2 separate regions of the Homo sapiens genome follow, and region 2 is linked to region 1. The links come from fine-mapping of genetic effects on gene expression. A gene starts in region 1. The other region holds a variant in brackets. All regions are shown on one strand. Distances are between the middles of the regions. Region 1 holds the start of KLHL38 (kelch like family member 38). Region 2 overlaps ANXA13 (annexin A13).

What was found. PIP is the estimated chance that this variant, and not a neighbour inherited with it, causes the effect.
Region 2: its variant is fine-mapped to the expression of KLHL38 in fibroblasts (GTEx, PIP 0.99).

Annotation. Positions count from the first base shown.
Region 1 is chr8:123,650,028-123,658,364 of GRCh38, reverse strand. KLHL38 (kelch like family member 38) reads left to right here and starts at 4,564. Exons shown (of 4, transcript NM_001081675.3): 1 at 4,564-4,779; 2 at 5,438-6,788. The coding sequence starts at 5,439. It overlaps LOC105375738 (a long non-coding RNA gene), which reads right to left and starts at 427. Exons shown (of 4, transcript XR_928606.3): 1 at 256-427; 2 at 1-116.
Region 2 is chr8:123,676,901-123,685,237 of GRCh38, reverse strand. It overlaps ANXA13 (annexin A13), which reads left to right. Exons shown (of 11, transcript NM_004306.4): 10 at 516-628; 11 at 3,879-4,444. The coding sequence ends at 3,998. Among named protein-coding and RNA genes, the nearest start is that of KLHL38, 27 kb to the right of the region's middle. The variant G/A (reference allele first, on the strand shown) is at 4,034.

The sequences.
Region 1 (8,337 bases):
CTTAAAATTTTTGCTTCTGGAGGACGGTCGTCATGGCAACCCCTGGACTCATGGATCAGGCCCCCTTTCTGCCTTTGTCTGGAGTACAAAGTCCTTGTTCCGCTTTCCACGGGCTGCTGAAAAAACACACCCAGCCAGATAGACACAGACACAGATAGACAGGCTCTCACGTATACTTAAAAACATTTAAAATCTTATATCAAGACCCAGGTTTCTTCCTACAGCTTATAATGATTCAGTTAATTGCAACCTTACCTGTCTGCTCCTCATGTTTCTCTCCACCTGTAAGAACAGGAGATTCTCTGATGCTAGCAGGGGACAGCCTTCCAGAGAGACCGCAGCACCACAGGGGCCTTTATGTGCATGTTTGTCCATCCTTGAAACACAGCAATCACCATAGCTATGGTTCCTAATTAGAGTGAGGGGACTTCTCCTGGAAGGAGCAGATGGGGAGCACGGCCCCGAGTGGGTTGAGAGGACTGAGGGTAGGGTTGTGGCAGAGAGTGTTTTGTGGCTTCCCAGCTGTTGTTGTCAAACCTGCTGCTGACAGGAGCCAGCCTGCCCTTTCCTTGGGGACCCAGACCCCGCACACCCAGATAGGAAAGAAACCAAGGCCTCCTGAGTCAAAGTGCCCACCATGGCAATCCAAAACTCCAGGAGGGAAAATGAAGGCTTTCTGGATTGACTTACAAGGGCAAACTCATCAAGGGCACCTGCTGGGAGCTCGACTTAGGTTTCTTCTCTGCACTTGGCTTCAGGCGAGAGCCGTGAGGAAGCTCTGAAGAGCCCTCATCCCTCAGTCTCAGTTTCTCCCAGTCCCTGTTCTAGGCCACAGATTGCAGAGAACACCTCAGGGTACAAACCACAGGAAGGTGATCTAGAAGGGCCAGGTGAGGAAATAAGTGCAGAGAGGTTAATTGACTCATCCAAAGATGCACAGCTAGTCGATAGCAGAGCCCAGACTGAATGCCAGGACTCCTGGAGGCTAAGTAGATCATGAGGAACACAGCAATTGCTCAAGGAAAAGGAAAATGCTAGAATGCACAGGGGACCAATTGAGACACTGAAAACCAGGCACCAAGACCCATTGGAATCTAATGAGATTAATTTTAGAGTAATAATATCATACTGACCATACTTTACTATGAATATACACTGTGCCAGGCACTTTACTGCATACTGCACATACATTATTTCACTGTGACAAGGATGGTTATCCCCACTTAACAGATGGAGAAACTGAGGCTGGAGGAGTATAAATAACTTACCCAAGACCACATGAATACTGAGGGGAAATGCCAAGATTATCCCCAGCCCTTCTGCCCCCAAAGTTCAGGCCTTGACTTGTTATGATACTGACTTTCATCAAAAGGAGGGCCGTGATTCATGCCTGTAATCCCAGCACTTTGGGAGGCCAAGGTGGGTGAATCTCTTGGGCCCAGCAGTTCAAGACCAGCCTGGGCAACATAGCAAAACCCTGTCTCTACAAAAAACACAAAAAATAGATGGATGTGGTGGCTCATGCCTTTAGTCTCAGCTTCTCAGGAGGCTGAGGTGGGAGGATCACTCGAGCCTCGGAGTTGGAGGCTACAGTGAGCCATAATCATGCCACTGCACTCCAGCCTGGGCCACAGAGTGAGACCCTGTCTCAGAAGAAACAAAAAAAGGAGAAACAATGAGCTGAATGTCCTCATTGATGTCATTTCTTTTAGGTTGCCATATGTTCAGGCCCTAGACTAAGACATCTTCTAGATGAAAGTTAAGACAAAAAGTATAAACCTCCCTGAGAGAAGTCAACTCATGAATGGGCTGGTTGGGCTACATGTGGGTGGTAGAGATGCTTTTTGGGGTCAAGCTTGGGCTTATATGTGTGTGTTTGCCATGTTGAACACTAAGACTCTGTGTCTTGACATTTGACATCTGACCTAGAACCAGGATCCTCCTGGTAGGCCAGGCCAACAAAACAGGGCCTATTTTTTCTAAACATTAGAAACCAAAAGATTTAGTAAAGTTGGTCAGACATTGATGCTGCACACCAAGGTCTATCTGAACAATTGACAGAGCTGGATTCCAGAAAGTTTAATTAGTAAGGGGATGTAGGGGAAAATCCAACATCCTTCCCAGGGAACGGTGCTGTGTTAATTCACTCCTAGGATCCCCTACCTATTACCCTCAGAATAAATCCTTGGCTTGCTTGCTGCCTGGAAGAGAAATCATGCAGGTGTTTCAGAGCATTAAGGAAGTTATTTCTTCCTCATGTTCACTCCGAGGTCAAGGACAAGAATGCTAGCTTTGGCGTTGGGAGGACCTCAGTTCAGTTCCCAGCCTGAACTTAAGTCTTGCACTGCAGTATAAAACAAGTGTTTTACTTTTCACTTCATCACATTATTGGATTTGATTATGTGGATAATCAGGGCTGCTCCAGAGCATATTTGCAGGGCAGTCTACGCAGTAAGCCATACATGGCAGCTCTGCAAAACCGGCACAGCAGACAGTGGTGTGAAGTCCACCCAGCAAAGCTCCCTCTCTTTCCCCATTCCCCATTCTGTTCCAGCTCAATGCAGGAAGTGTATGAAATTCACCCCCTATAAGCCAGGCCCTGTGCTGGGTGCTAGGAGTAGAGCTACAATGAAGTCAAGATTCCTGCTGCCCAGAGACTTCCACTCTAATAAGAGAGACACAGGGAAGTAAACATAATCTCAGTGAGGTATGAGGCATGCCATTAGAGGCATGTAGAAGAATGGAAACTGCACAGAGGAGTGTGAAGTTAAGTGTCTTAGAGAGGGGTAAAAAGACTTGCAGAGAAGTGATACATAAACCAAGTTTTGGAAGACGAACAGAAACAGTGAAAATGATAGAGTGAGCAGAGGGGAAGAGCTCATAGAAAGGGATAGAGTACGAATCAGAGGATCCCTGGGCTCTTTCAGGAATGTGGCTACTCACTTATTATGTCACCAGCACAGCTCACCAACTCGGACATATGGAGGAACAGCTCCTCTCACCTGCTCCCTGCTTGTGCCTCCATGGGTCTCTGACCCCCTTAGCTTAGGCCTCCTGCTCCTAATTCTGGCCTCCAGGCCCATGGCCCCAGTAACATGTTTTGGATCCATTTCCCTGGCCTTGACCTTCTGGACTCTTTTGGGCATAATCCACTCTACGATCGGCAACTGTGAATGAGAAACCCTCTTCCTTCCACCCTGCCCTGTGGTGTCCCAAAGGCCAGGCCAGCCCAGCTTCCCCAACAGTGACCAGATGCATACAAGGATCTGTAAGTGTCTCATGGAGCTAGATTACCACACATGAGTGGCAGTAGACATGGTTCCAGAAGCAGACAGGACACCAGTCCGATTCTGGCTAAGGAGTCCTGCAGACATGGGGAGCCACTGAAGGGCCTGATGCTGGGGACTGGCAAATTCTGAGTTGCCTTCCCAGGGGCTGCTCCAGAGAAGACAGGGTGGATGTATTGGAGAGAGAAGTACTAGGAGCAAAGAAAAAAAAATGCATGGAAGACCATTGCACTAGTTGAGCAAGACGTTGAGTAGGAGACAAAGTCAGGCTTCCCTGCCTTTTGTGGCTAAGACAATCATGGACCTCCCTGAAGGCAGGGGCAGAACAGACCTGAGGTCCCCCTCACTCTCTCTCGTGATTCTGATTGTTATTGAAAGCTGCCTCCTACCACATCACTATCATCATTCCTCCCCCGATTCTCTACCTCCTGCTTCTTTTCCTCCTCCTCCTATTCCTCCTCCTCTTCTTCCTCCTCTCGTCTCTCTCCCTCCCTCTGTCCCTGCTTCTTCTTCCTCCTCATCCTCCTTCATCTTCTTTCTCTCTCTCCCTAAAGCAATATGCCTTGCCTCCTGCCTCTAGCTCAAGCTGCCAGACAAGACAAAATGGAAAAGTAAGACAGAAAAGGAAGTCTGAACTATAAAAAGCCAGCTGAAGAGCAATCAGCACGTGTCTGGGAGAGGCAGACGCGACAGGAGGAGCTCGGCCTTACCACTGTCAATCAGAGGTTCCTGAGTAAGGAGACCTGACAAAGGTTTGGGCCTTCAGGAGTCTGGAAACCCTGGGATGCTCAACAACAACAACAACAAAAAACAACAACTTTTGTCATGGATTTCATCACCTAGGATCCTGGAGGAGGAAATCACAGCTCTCCCCAGCGATCCCGCCAGGCAGATGGTGGGAAATAGAGATCCATTGAATAGCACCCACAGGCTCATGTTCCGGCTTCCCTTGTGACCACCTGCCACCTCCACTGTGGCCCAGAACCATCTTCAGTGACTCTCCACAGGTCACAGCAACCTGTTTACAGACGGCTAGAATTCCCAAGCACTTTTAGGACAGGGGACTCGGGATGGTTCCAAGCAGACAGCAAAGTCTTCTCTAAGAGAAGCCGCTCCTCCCGATCTATTTTTGCCGATGTAAACACTTGCCAAGGAAACGAGGCATGTGGGCATGCGCCGGCCCTGCAGGCCCTCGGGTTGCTGCAAAAGGCAACTGGAAAGTCACATGTCATAACAGTGGAAAGTACATATGCAACTATTCTTAGCCCTGGAATGTATACACTGTCTCCCTGCCCAGCAGTCCTTGCACAAAGCTCTAGAAAACTATGAAAGTGCCTTCAGCATAAACAAATCCAGAAATCTCCCAGGACAAATCATTTGCCAACTGAAAGAAAGGCCTGGGGTTTATGGTTTCCCTTGGAGCTAGAGGTAGAAACTCTCCGGGGGGATAAGTCAGACCAGGCACCAGTGGATGTCACCGCAGCAAAACAAGGTAAGTGTCCCTCATACTTATTTCTTCTGCAAGTAGAAAACCAGGTGTCATCCAATAAACCAGGGGATTGTTTGGTCTTTCCTTTTATTTATTCTATCTTTAAAACAAGACTCAATGAAGTCATATTTAAATATATGCATCAAAGGTCCATTTTCTTCCCTCATTTCTGTCCAGTGACCAGAGGGCCACACCTCCAGAATATCATCCTTGGGGAATGATTGACACCCAGAAAGAGAGGTTTAGACATCTGTTACTCAATAACAGATATGCCATCGATCTGGAAAAAGGCTCATGAACTTCTGCTGGTCAAATCCATGGACTGTTATCTTGCTTCAGACTAACATTTCAGCTTCTGATAACAGAGTAACTTCCAACAACTTTAGTTTGTTTGTTTGGTTGTTTCTCTCAGATTAGCTGAAGATACTATTTGCCTATTACTTTTGAAAATAACCATAACCCAAAAGGGCTCAGGTCTGAGATGTATGTGGCCTTCCTTTCCAATCTTCCCTACACAATATCCATGGTGACATCCGCAAACATCATGGGGAATGGAATAGGAGCACTGGTCTTGGAGTCCCCACAGCTGAACCCTCCAGCACATGCAGCTGAGAAAGGTTTGACTCTTGCTGACTCTGGGGGCTTCCTTCCCTCTTTGTAGGATGGACGAGGAGTCACTAGATGGGCTGCTCTTCAAAGACCACGACTTCTCTTCTGACTTGTTGAGGCAGCTCAACAGCTTAAGGCAAAGCAGGATCCTGACTGATGTGAGCATCTGTGCCGGTGCCCGGGAGATCCCCTGCCACCGCAACGTGCTGGCCTCCAGCAGCCCCTACTTCAGGGCTATGTTCTGCAGCAGCTTCCGGGAGAAGAGTGAAGCCAAAGTGCAGCTGAAAGGCATTGACCCCCCAACCCTGGACCAGATCGTCTCCTACGTGTATACGGGGGAGGCACATATTGCCACTGACAATGTCCTCCCCGTGATGGAGGCCGCCTCCATGCTACAGTTCCCCAAGCTGTTTGAGGCCTGCTCCTCGTACTTGCAGAGCCAGTTGGCCCCCAGCAACTGCCTGGGTATGATCAGACTCTCAGAAATCTTAAGCTGCGAGACCCTCAAGAAGAAAGCCAGGGAGGTGGCACTGACGTCCTTCCCAGAGGTGGCCGCATCGGCCGACCTGAAGGAGCTCTGTGCCTTGGAGTTGAGGGACTATCTCGGAGATGATGGGCTCTGTGGGGAGGAGGAAAAGGTGTTTGAGGCCCTCATGGTTTGGATCAAGCATGACCTCCAGGCCCGGAAGCGATACATGCAGGAACTGTTCAAGCAGGTCAGGCTGCAGTACATCCACCCAGCCTTCTTTCACCACTTCATCGCCAACGATGCCCTCCTGCAGTCCTCGCCTGCATGCCAGATCATCTTGGAGACCGCCAAGAGACAGATGTTCTCTTTGTGTGGCACCACCGTCCCAGACTGCAAACTCCTGTTGCATGTCCCTCCAAGAAACTCTTACCAAGATTTCCTCATCCTCTTGGGCGGAAGGAAGGACAGCCAGCAGACCACCAGGGACGTCCTACTGTACAGCAAACAGACCGGCCAATGGCAGAGCCTTGCCAAACTCCCGACACGGCTGTACAAGGCCTCTGCCATCACCTTGCACCGCAGCATCTATGTGCTGGGGGGCATGGCTGTCAGCTCAGGGAGGAGTCTGGTCAGTCACAATGTCTACATCTTCTCCCTGAAACTCAATCAGTGGAGGCTGGGGGAGCCCATGCTGGTGGCCCGCTACTCCCACAGAAGCACTGCCCATAAGAACTTCATCTTCTCCATCGGGGGGATTGGAGAAGGGCAGGAGCTCATGGGCTCCATGGAAAGGTATGACAGCATCTGCAATGTCTGGGAGAGTATGGCCAGCATGCCCGTGGGGGTGCTCCACCCCGCAGTCGCTGTGAAAGACCAAAGACTCTATCTCTTTGGAGGAGAGGACATCATGCAGAACCCTGTGCGCCTTATCCAGGTAAATGGCCGGTTCTTCCCATCACGTAACTGCATGAGTATGTGTGCTTGGACACACCCACACCTGCTTGCACACACATGCACATGTATACATACACACCAAAAAACACATATATGCACATAAATATATATATGCACACATATACACAAACACACATATGCATACATGCGTGCACACATATATGCAGAAATGTATATTCATGCATACATGCATACACATATGCACACATATATGCAGATGCCAACATGCATACGTGTGCACATGCATACACATATACAATTCATGCATGCATACACACATTTACATATATCTACACATGCATGCACACATTTATACATATGCACGAACACAAATACGTACATGCATACATGCACACACATGTGCACCCATGTACACACATACCAACACTTGTTATTTGCAAGGAAGGAAGAGAGGAAGGGAGGGAGGGAAGAAGGATTTTCAGCAAGATATTTTTCAATTTATGAATTTTTTTGTGCAAAAATAATACATAACAAAGGATATCAAATACCATCCCTATGCACAGAGTTTATCTTCATTTGATGAGAAAAATATATATCTAAAAATTCAAGTTATTATACAGCATATTGAAAGTCAGATAGTGAAGTCCCATAGGAATTTGGCAGGTGCTTCTAACTCAAGTCAGTAAGGCCTTAAAAGAAGATTCCCAAGCCTTGGTCCACACCTCTGTGACCAAATCCCCTGGAACCTGACCTCACATCACTGAATCAAAATATCTTTGTGTGAGATCCTAAAATGTATGGTTTACAAAAGTCCCCAGGAGACTCTAAGTTGCAGCCAGGTTGGGAAACCCCTACTTTTAATGATCGGCAGACATTAATTTCACTAACAAGCTGTCTGAGAAGTATGCTCAATAAAGGCCACATTTCAGAATATTAAGTGTTTTCCAGCTTTATGCAAGTTCCTGGTAATCTCTGCAGAACGTGAATATTGAGCCTGCCTTTACAGACAATCAGAAGCATCCACGAGATGTACTTTGCTCATCTATGAGAGTTATGTTGAACATCAACCATTGTGAAGGGCCTGGAGACCCAGCAATTTACACATAACCCTCAGTTGCAATTCAGACGCTGAAGAGAGGGGTGCTCTAAGAGCACAGGCGGGATGCCCTAAACCAGTCTAGAGCAAGCTTGCCCAACACGCATACAGCCCAAGACAGCTTTGAATGCGGCCCAACACAAATTCATAAACTTTAAAACATGATGAGATTTTTTTTAGCGATTTTTTTTAGCTCATCAGCTATCATTTGTGTTAGTGTGCTTTATGTGTGACCCAAGACAACTCTCCTTCCAATGTGGCCCAGGGAAGCCAAAAGATTGGACACCGCTGGTCCAGAGAGAATCAGAGAGAGTGCCAGGGTTAAGGGAATGTTGGAGCAAACCCTGTGAAGTTGGCTGAAGCTGACTTGAGCAGAGGGGCAGGAGAGGAGAGAGGAAGGTGGGGATGGAGAATAAAAGAGGAGGGGGAGGGGTGGGGTGGGTGCTAAGAAAGCATGTAAGGGAAGATCCGA
Region 2 (8,337 bases), 27 kb before region 1:
GTGGGGAACCTGGAAAAGGTTCAGAGATGAGGCTTGCAAAACAACCCCAGTGAGGAAAAACAAAGAGTAGGGAGGTTGTTGAGCATAGGAGAGCAGGCGGCTGTCCAACTGGATACATTGTCAAGATGATGAAGTTTTGTTCCAGAAGGTTGCTGGCCAATCTGTTTCCCTTCAGAACCCTAGGACAGCACCAGAGATTTCACTCGATAGGGAAAGTTATTTCTGCTGGGAAATAACGAGAATCATGGACGTGGCCGGGAGGGCCCGAGGATGCCACAGCTCTCCTCTAGAGGGTCTTCAGGGGACAGGAGGGGAGCTATGCTTGAAGATTCCAGGTGCTCTGACCAGGGAATCTTCCAAATCTCATTTCGCAACGGTGTCAAGTCAGCTCTTTTCACACCTCTGTCTCACCATCCAGTCAGCTCGAAGGGCAGCCAGGTGACATTTAGGGGGGTCCCAAGGTCATTCCACAAAACGTGAAAGCCTCACATTCTCTTTTCCTTTGTCCTGCCCAGTGAGATGTGCCCAGGATTGTGAGGACTATTTTGCTGAACGTCTGTACAAGTCGATGAAGGGTGCGGGGACCGATGAGGAGACGTTGATTCGCATAGTCGTGACCAGGGCCGAGGTAAGACACACTCCGACTCCAAAGAGGCGGCTGCAACTTCTCTTTTTTCCACCACTGATGTCATCAACAAATAGTTTCTATTAAGGGCCTATTTACAGAAAAAGTAAAACAGAGACGGCCCCTTGCCTTCCCAGAATTTGCAGAAGACATTGTGCTCTGCTTCAATCTGTTTCTTTTTATAAAAATACAATAATGATCGTTGCTTCTTTTTTTGTCCTCTGTGGCTCTGGAGAGCTAGTGGAGGGGCGCAGAGGCAACCATGTCGAGCAGTTCTCAGGGGCTGCAGCTATGCATGGCTCCATGTTAAGGAAGACAAAACAAACACACTTGAAAGAGGTCAACCAGCAGCAGGAACAAAAAGAGAATGATTTCTGAATTCCTGAGTGAGGCCTTTCCTTAACTGAACACACTGCAGAAGCAAGCACATCAGCATAAGGCAATGGTTCTCAATCTTTTTAAAAACTATTGCTGTTCTAAGGAACCTTTTTAGACACGTGTTTCTTCATTGCCATCCCTTCCCCACAAGAAATGTTAACACCAGAGATAATACTACAAATCTGTTTATATACCATGTGGATATCAGTGCTTTATACATAAAAAAATTAAGGGCTTTTTCACCCCCTAAAAACCAATTTGTGCTTGCTCTCGGAGAATGTGTATGTATAAGAAAGAAAAGGGAGAGGAAGAGCCAACGGCTTGGGAGCAGCCGTCAAGATCACAGCTGGTCGGGTGCAATGGCTCATGCCTGTAATCCCAGCACTTTGGGAGGCCGAGGTGGGTGGATCGCCTGAGGTCAGGAGTTCGAGACCGGCCTGGCCAACATGGTGAAACCCCGTCACTACTAAAAATACAAAAATTAGCTGGGCATGGTGGCACACACTTGTAGTCCCAGCTACTCAGGAGGCTGAGGCATGAGAATTGCTTGAACCCAGAAGGTGGAGGTTGCAGTGAGCCAAGATGGTGCCACTACACTCCAGTCTGAGTAACAGAGCGAGACTCGGTCTCAAAAAAAAAAAAAAAAAAAAGGTCACAGCTAACAGTTCGGGATATGGGGCCACAGACAGAAGGTGGTACAAAATAAAGGGGAAGTGGCATTTCATCGGCAGCAGGAGAAGCCTTGGGGAATGAAGTGGAACTAAGCACTTGAAAACCACAGACATCTTCCCTCAAAAAAAAAAAAAAAAAGTGGTTAAATGAAGGGGGAGGTGAAGGGGGAGGGACACCAACCCAAATTCTGATCCATGGCTTCTTAACAAATAATGCTTAACATCTGACACTGTTTTTAAATATAACTTTGCAACAAGATGGTTCTTGCTTTTTTATTTCTATTCCTGGAATTTCTCCTCCCCTCCTTTCTCCTCCTCCACAACTCATCTTTTTCTATTGAAGGCCATGTCTCTCTCTCTCCCCTCTTTCCCTTTGCCAGTCTCTCTGCTCTGCTCCTGCCATGCCTCTGCCTCTCTCCTCCATGGCTCCAAATCCCTCTCCCTCCTTTCTCTCCAGGTCTTCTGCCTTGTCCGTCCCTCTGTCTGTTAGCAACTCGACCTCCAGCCAAAGTCACTGAGAGATGAGAGATCTTGAGGGACTCAAAAGGGACAGGTTGAACACAATGAAGACCCAGGATTCCAAATGACCCCCAGAGAGACTGGATCCATCCGAAGGGCTTGTGAGGGTTCCGTGATCACTCCGACATGGCCCACGGAGTGTTTTATTCCAAGAAGCTCTGTCCCATCTCAGAATCAACCACACGTCCTGGGCCATCTCAACATGTGGGCAGTTACCTCAGAAGGCTTCAGGCCTGGCTAGATATAGTAGTTTGGCCAGATTTCCTAATCTCCCAAAGCCACAGAACAGAGCCCTGTGCACCCCATCCCTACCCACCCTCCACCTTCCTGCCCGTGTCCCAGCACGGGGCAAGGAGCCAAGCAGCGGAGCAGGGGGACACACAGGCTGGGGGAGAGACAGACACCACCTGTCTCCTGTAGTGTCTGCCACCTGCTCCACATCCACTGCAAACCCTCCCTCACTCCCCCACATACTCCCATCCTGATCATTTCTCTCACTGTCTCAGCTCAGCCCTCTCACTGGGGCAAGAGAAGAAAGAATCAGATCCCTGAGCCACACTTTTTGGGTCTGGAGTACAAGGTAGGGTCTAAGCCAAAAAAGAAAAGAAAAGAAAGACTCCTGGTTAAAAAGAGTTCTCTGCTTCTTTTATGAGATCCATTATGTTCTACCTGGAATTACATCTTTTCTGGTACAAGTATCGTCTCCTTTGCTAGGCTGTAAGAATCTTCTGGCAGAGCAATCTTTGGATTTATTTTTCTCCTGAGTCCTATCATCACTTCTAGCACCTGGGTTTTTCAAGCTTCCAATAAATTAGATTCAAAATAAATCCTACAAGTTGCTAGTGATTTGAGTTGTGTTGACTGGTACTAATATCCTTGCTAATCATGGTATGAGGGAAAAACTGCTTAATTGCTTAATTCCACATCTCTGTGTTGACAATTTTCTTAGTTTTATACCAGGGGTCAACCAACTACAGCCTGCAGGCCAATTCAGGCTCACTGCCAGGTTGTGTACAGTCCTGCTAGCTTAGGGCAATTCATTTTCAAATAACTGTTAAAACTCAAAAGAAAGATAATACTTTGTAACATGTAAAAACTGTATGAAATTCAAGAGTTTTAGGGCCAGGCACGGTGGCTCACGCCTGTAATCCCAGCACTTCGGGAGCTGAGGTGGGTGGATCACCTGAGGTCACGAGTTCGAGACCAGTCTGGCCAACATGATGAAACCCCCGTCTCTACTAAAAATACAGAAAAAAATTAGCCAGGCATGGTGGTTGACTGTAATCCCAGCTACTTGGGGGGCTGAGGCAGGACAATTGCTTGAACCCAGGAGGCGGAGATTGCAGTGAGCCGAGACTGCACCATTGCACTCCAGCCTCGGCAACAAGAGCAAAGCTCTGTCTCAAAAAAAAAAAAAAAAAAAAAGAAATTCAAGAGTTTTAGTGGAACACACACACACGTGGACACCTCTGCAACCTTTGGGGAATTGACCTCTGCCTTCCCTTTCCTGATCACAAAATTGAAATAACGTGATAAAGGAAATAATGATAGGAAATAAAGCCCTATCTCAAGGGCTGTTTTAAGGCATGAATGAGCAAATGAGTATAACATGTGTAGAACAGTGCCCACTGTTTGTGAACACACCATAAACGTTCTTATCTCCATTGCTGTTATTTTTTCTACAGGTGGACCTTCAGGGGATCAAAGCAAAGTTCCAAGAGAAGTATCAGAAGTCTCTCTCTGACATGGTTCGCTCAGATACCTCCGGGGACTTCCGGAAACTGCTAGTAGCCCTCTTGCACTGAGCCAAGCCAGGGCAATAGGAACACAGGGTGGAACC[G/A]CCTTTGTCAAGAGCACATTCCAAATCAAACTTGCAAATGAGACTCCCGCACGAAAACCCTTAAGAGTCCCGGATTACTTTCTTGGCAGCTTAAGTGGCGCAGCCAGGCCAAGCTGTGTAAGTTAAGGGCAGTAACGTTAAGATGCGTGGGCAGGGCACCTTGAACTCTGGCTTAGCAAGCATCTAGGCTGCCTCTTCACTTTCTTTTAGCATGGTAACTGGATGTTTTCTAAACACTAATGAAATCAGCAGTTGATGAAAAAACTATGCATTTGTAATGGCACATTTAGAAGGATATGCATCACACAAGTAAGGTACAGGAAAGACAAAATTAAACAATTTATTAATTTTCCTTCTGTGTGTTCAATTTGAAAGCCTCATTGTTAATTAAAGTTGTGGATTATGCCTCTATCAGCTGCTTTTCCAAAGATTGTCTTGATAAGTTTGGGCTCTTCTCTGGGAAATGTATGACTTGTGAAATTCAAACCTACATTTTTTAGTGGTCACTAATCAAGGCTAGTCATAAGGAAACAATTCACTTGCTTTTGTAAACTGTAACTAAGGGTAAAATTCCCTAATCTGCTACCTGGTTTAACTGGGTTTTCTTCTCTAGACATTTGACCCACTTGAGTCTTCCCTCTGATCTTCAAATACAATTAAGCTGAGCAAAGTGCCAACAAGATCAAGATCAATGGTCTACCTCTGAAGTGAATTGGTTCCACACCAATAGATTCTGTGTTCCAAAACTTTAGTCTCATAGCCACGTGTTGCTAGACATAGAGGGATCTGTCAAGAGAACCTGGACACTTTGGCCCAATAATCATAGTTGTCATTCATTGGCTGATTATTTGTGCCTGACACTGAGTAGTCCAATTTCATTCTTAATCCTCCCCACAGCTCTATGTGGTTAATATTACTCCCAATTATCAGTTGAGGAAACTGACACATTAAGTAACCTATCTAAATTCATTTACAAGTGCTGTTTTCACACTGCTATAATTACCGGTAAAAAATTACCAAGACTGGGTAATTTATAAAGAAAAGAGGTTTAAGTGACTCACAGTTCCGCAGGGCTGGGGAGGCCTCAGGAAACTTACAATCATGGTGGAAGGGGAGGAGGCACGTCTTATGTGGCAGCAGGAAAGAAAGAGTGGTGAGCGAAGCGGAAAGAGCCCCTTATAAAACCATCAGATCTCATGAGAACTCCCTCACTGTGACGAGAACAGCATGGGGGACACAGACCCCATGATCTAATCACTCCCACCAGGTCTTTCCTGGGGATTACAATTGACACATGAGGATTACAATTTGTGATGAGATTTGGGTGGTGACATAGAGCCAAACCATGTCAACTAGCATTTCAATCCAGGGCTGGCTGACACCAGGAATCATGCTACTAACTGCCTTAATTGGAAAAATCAGTTGAAGTACATGGGAATGGGTCTGTATTCATTCATCTGCTTAGTTCCCTACTATCTGCCAATCACTGTGGTGTGCTCTGAGGATACAAAGACAAGTAGAACACTGACTCCCCTTGGGGCAGTTCATTCCCAGGTCAATAATGTCTCTTTTATTCAATAGAATGCTGTAAGTGCATTAATAAGAGCAGTATATTTGTTCATTTTCACACTGTTCATTTTCACACTGCAGTAAAGAACTACCTGAGACTGGGTAATTTATAAAGAAAACGGGTTTAATTGACTCACATTTCCACCTGGCTGGGGAGGTCTCAGGAAACTTACAATCATGGCAAAAGGTAAAGGGGAAGCAAAGCACGTGTTACATGGTGGCAGGAGAGATGGGGGAGGGGAAGTGCCACACTTTTAAACCATCAGATCTTGTGAGAACTCACTCACTATCATAAGAACAGCATGGGGGAAACTCCCCCCATGATCTAATCACCTCCCAGCAGGTCCCTCCCTCGACACATGGGGATTACAATTCAAGATGAGATTTGGATGGGGACACAGAGCCAAACCATATCAAGCAGGTAAAGGGCTCTACCTATGAGTAAGAAGAGAGAACACACAGCTCTGCATGGGGAACTGGGGAACACTTCCCAGAGATGCATTTGTGCTGGGTTTTAAAGAATGCATAGAAGCTCTCCAGAAAAATAAAAGAAGAAGGGCACAAGCAGAGGCTGGAGAAGCCTGAGTGGGCAGGGTGTGTTCAGGGAGAGGTGAAATCCATTCTCCTGGGGCACAGATGTGTGGAAAGAAAGGAATGGCCCTGGCAGGCAGGCAAAGCAGCTGTGAAAATAGGTTTGAACCACATCAGCCATGGTTCTGCCTGCCAAGCATGAGTTTGGTCCTCTGGGCAACAGCAGTCATTGGAGATGTTTAAGCGAAGAACATGATCACATCTGGGCTTTGGGAAATCACTTTAGTGGCTGCTAGACATAGAGGGATCTGTCAACAGAACCTGAACACCTTGGTCCAATAATCATAGTTATCCTTCATTGGCTGATTATTTGTGCCTGACACTACTAAGTAGCACAATCTCATTCACACCATTTGGGGTGTGATCAACATATAACAAACAGCCCAATCAGTTAAGGATAGATGCCATAATTGTCTTTTTAGTTGCTACAAAACAGTGATGGACATATTAAGAAGTTATGTTAACATCAGTGTCTTCCACATCCTGGTTTATCTACTTAATAGTCATTGCCATCATTATAAACTTTAATACATAAAAAATTATTTTCTAGAACCAAGCTCAGTGACAAAACGTATTTGTATTTACCTATTTGTTGCCAAAGCTGGTCTTTGCTTTTATAACCAGAAACAAAACAACCAGTTTTTGGGATCTGAGCTCATGGTAAGGACAGAAAAACAAATCAATGGACTGAAAAGAGATCTATTAAAAACAGACACAATTTGAGATTGTTGATGGCCATAATTCACACAGAGACAAGCAAGAAGATATTTTACAGGTGGAGAAACTGAGGCTGATAAGATGGAGAAGCCAGGTCATTTACTCAAGATCACCCACATAAAGTACCAGGGCCAGAATTCAACCCAAGTCCTTCTGCCTCTAATGCCCGTGCTCTTCGCCAGACTAGCTCATGGTCCATGAGTGCTTTTGTCTAAAATTTTGCTGAGTGAGACATCAAGGTTCCTTTCTGTGGCTGCTCAATATTGCTCATCACTTGCAAGCTGGAGCCAGTTTCTAGGTATTCGCCTAGGGTCTGGTCTGCCCCAGGTATGCCCCTCTGTGAGAGAGGTATGCCTCTCTCACAGAGGCAACTCAGGAATGTCTTCTTTTTTCCCTTCCACACACCCCTGCCCTGCCCAGGTCCCTCTGACTTCTCCCTGTGCCCCCAGCCCGCCTGCCTGCAGAGAGAGGGAATGGGGAGGATAAAAATAGAAAGAAGGGAGAGAGGAGAGCATCACCATCTTGACATCTCCCCACTGCACAGCCCTGTTCCTCATACTAGCCCCTTCCTCTAGGGCCACTAAAGGAATGCCAGCTCCTGCCACCCAGATGCTTAGATAGGTAGGGGGCTCCAAACCCCACCTCCAGGGATGCACAGAGGAGAGCATATTCTGCCAAGGTATGCCATTCCCCATGGAATTCTGTGCCAGGCCCTGACTGTGCTCCACACTATTTCTCACTCACAGTGAGTCACCTGGGTTTTGTGGGTGAATAGATTCTGGGGAGCTGGTCTGGGTGAACCATAGAAGAAGCTGAAAGTCCTCCCACCCCACCCCAGGAGCCAAGGGTGTCCCATGACTTACTGTGGGAGCTTCAGCCCTCCATAGATCCCTCTCAGCAGTGCCAGGGCTTCCACGTGGCTCCCCCATACAGGCCCACCCCTCAAATGTGTGGGTCCAGCCCATTTCTTCAGCTTCTGCGTCTGTCCTGAACTGGGAGGGACCTATGAGGACAGCTTGGCCCACCCAGCCAACTTCTTTCCACAACCTGCTATGGACCTTGGGAAGAGACCCGCAGCAACCCTGGAAGCTCAGGGCTCAGCTCAGGGCTCAGGGCAGGGCATTTTGAAGTCTCAGGAGCTAGGTCAAGAAAAGGGTGTCCAAGCCACAAGTGGGTGTGTCTCCTGGACCCCAAGGACTTCCCAGCCCACAGGGAGGGGCACAGCAGCTGAAGGCAGGGAGGCATCCTCCAGAGTGGGCCAGGGCGGGACACCAGGGTCCAGGGTGGGACATTGCTCCCATGAGCCCCTTGGAGTGGCACTGGCCACTCACGTTCTTAGTCTTCTCTGGCCTCTAACTCTCCTATTTCTTCTGCTCAGGTTGCTGGGACCCTACATGGGCCTCAATCACATCGAATAGGCAAAATGC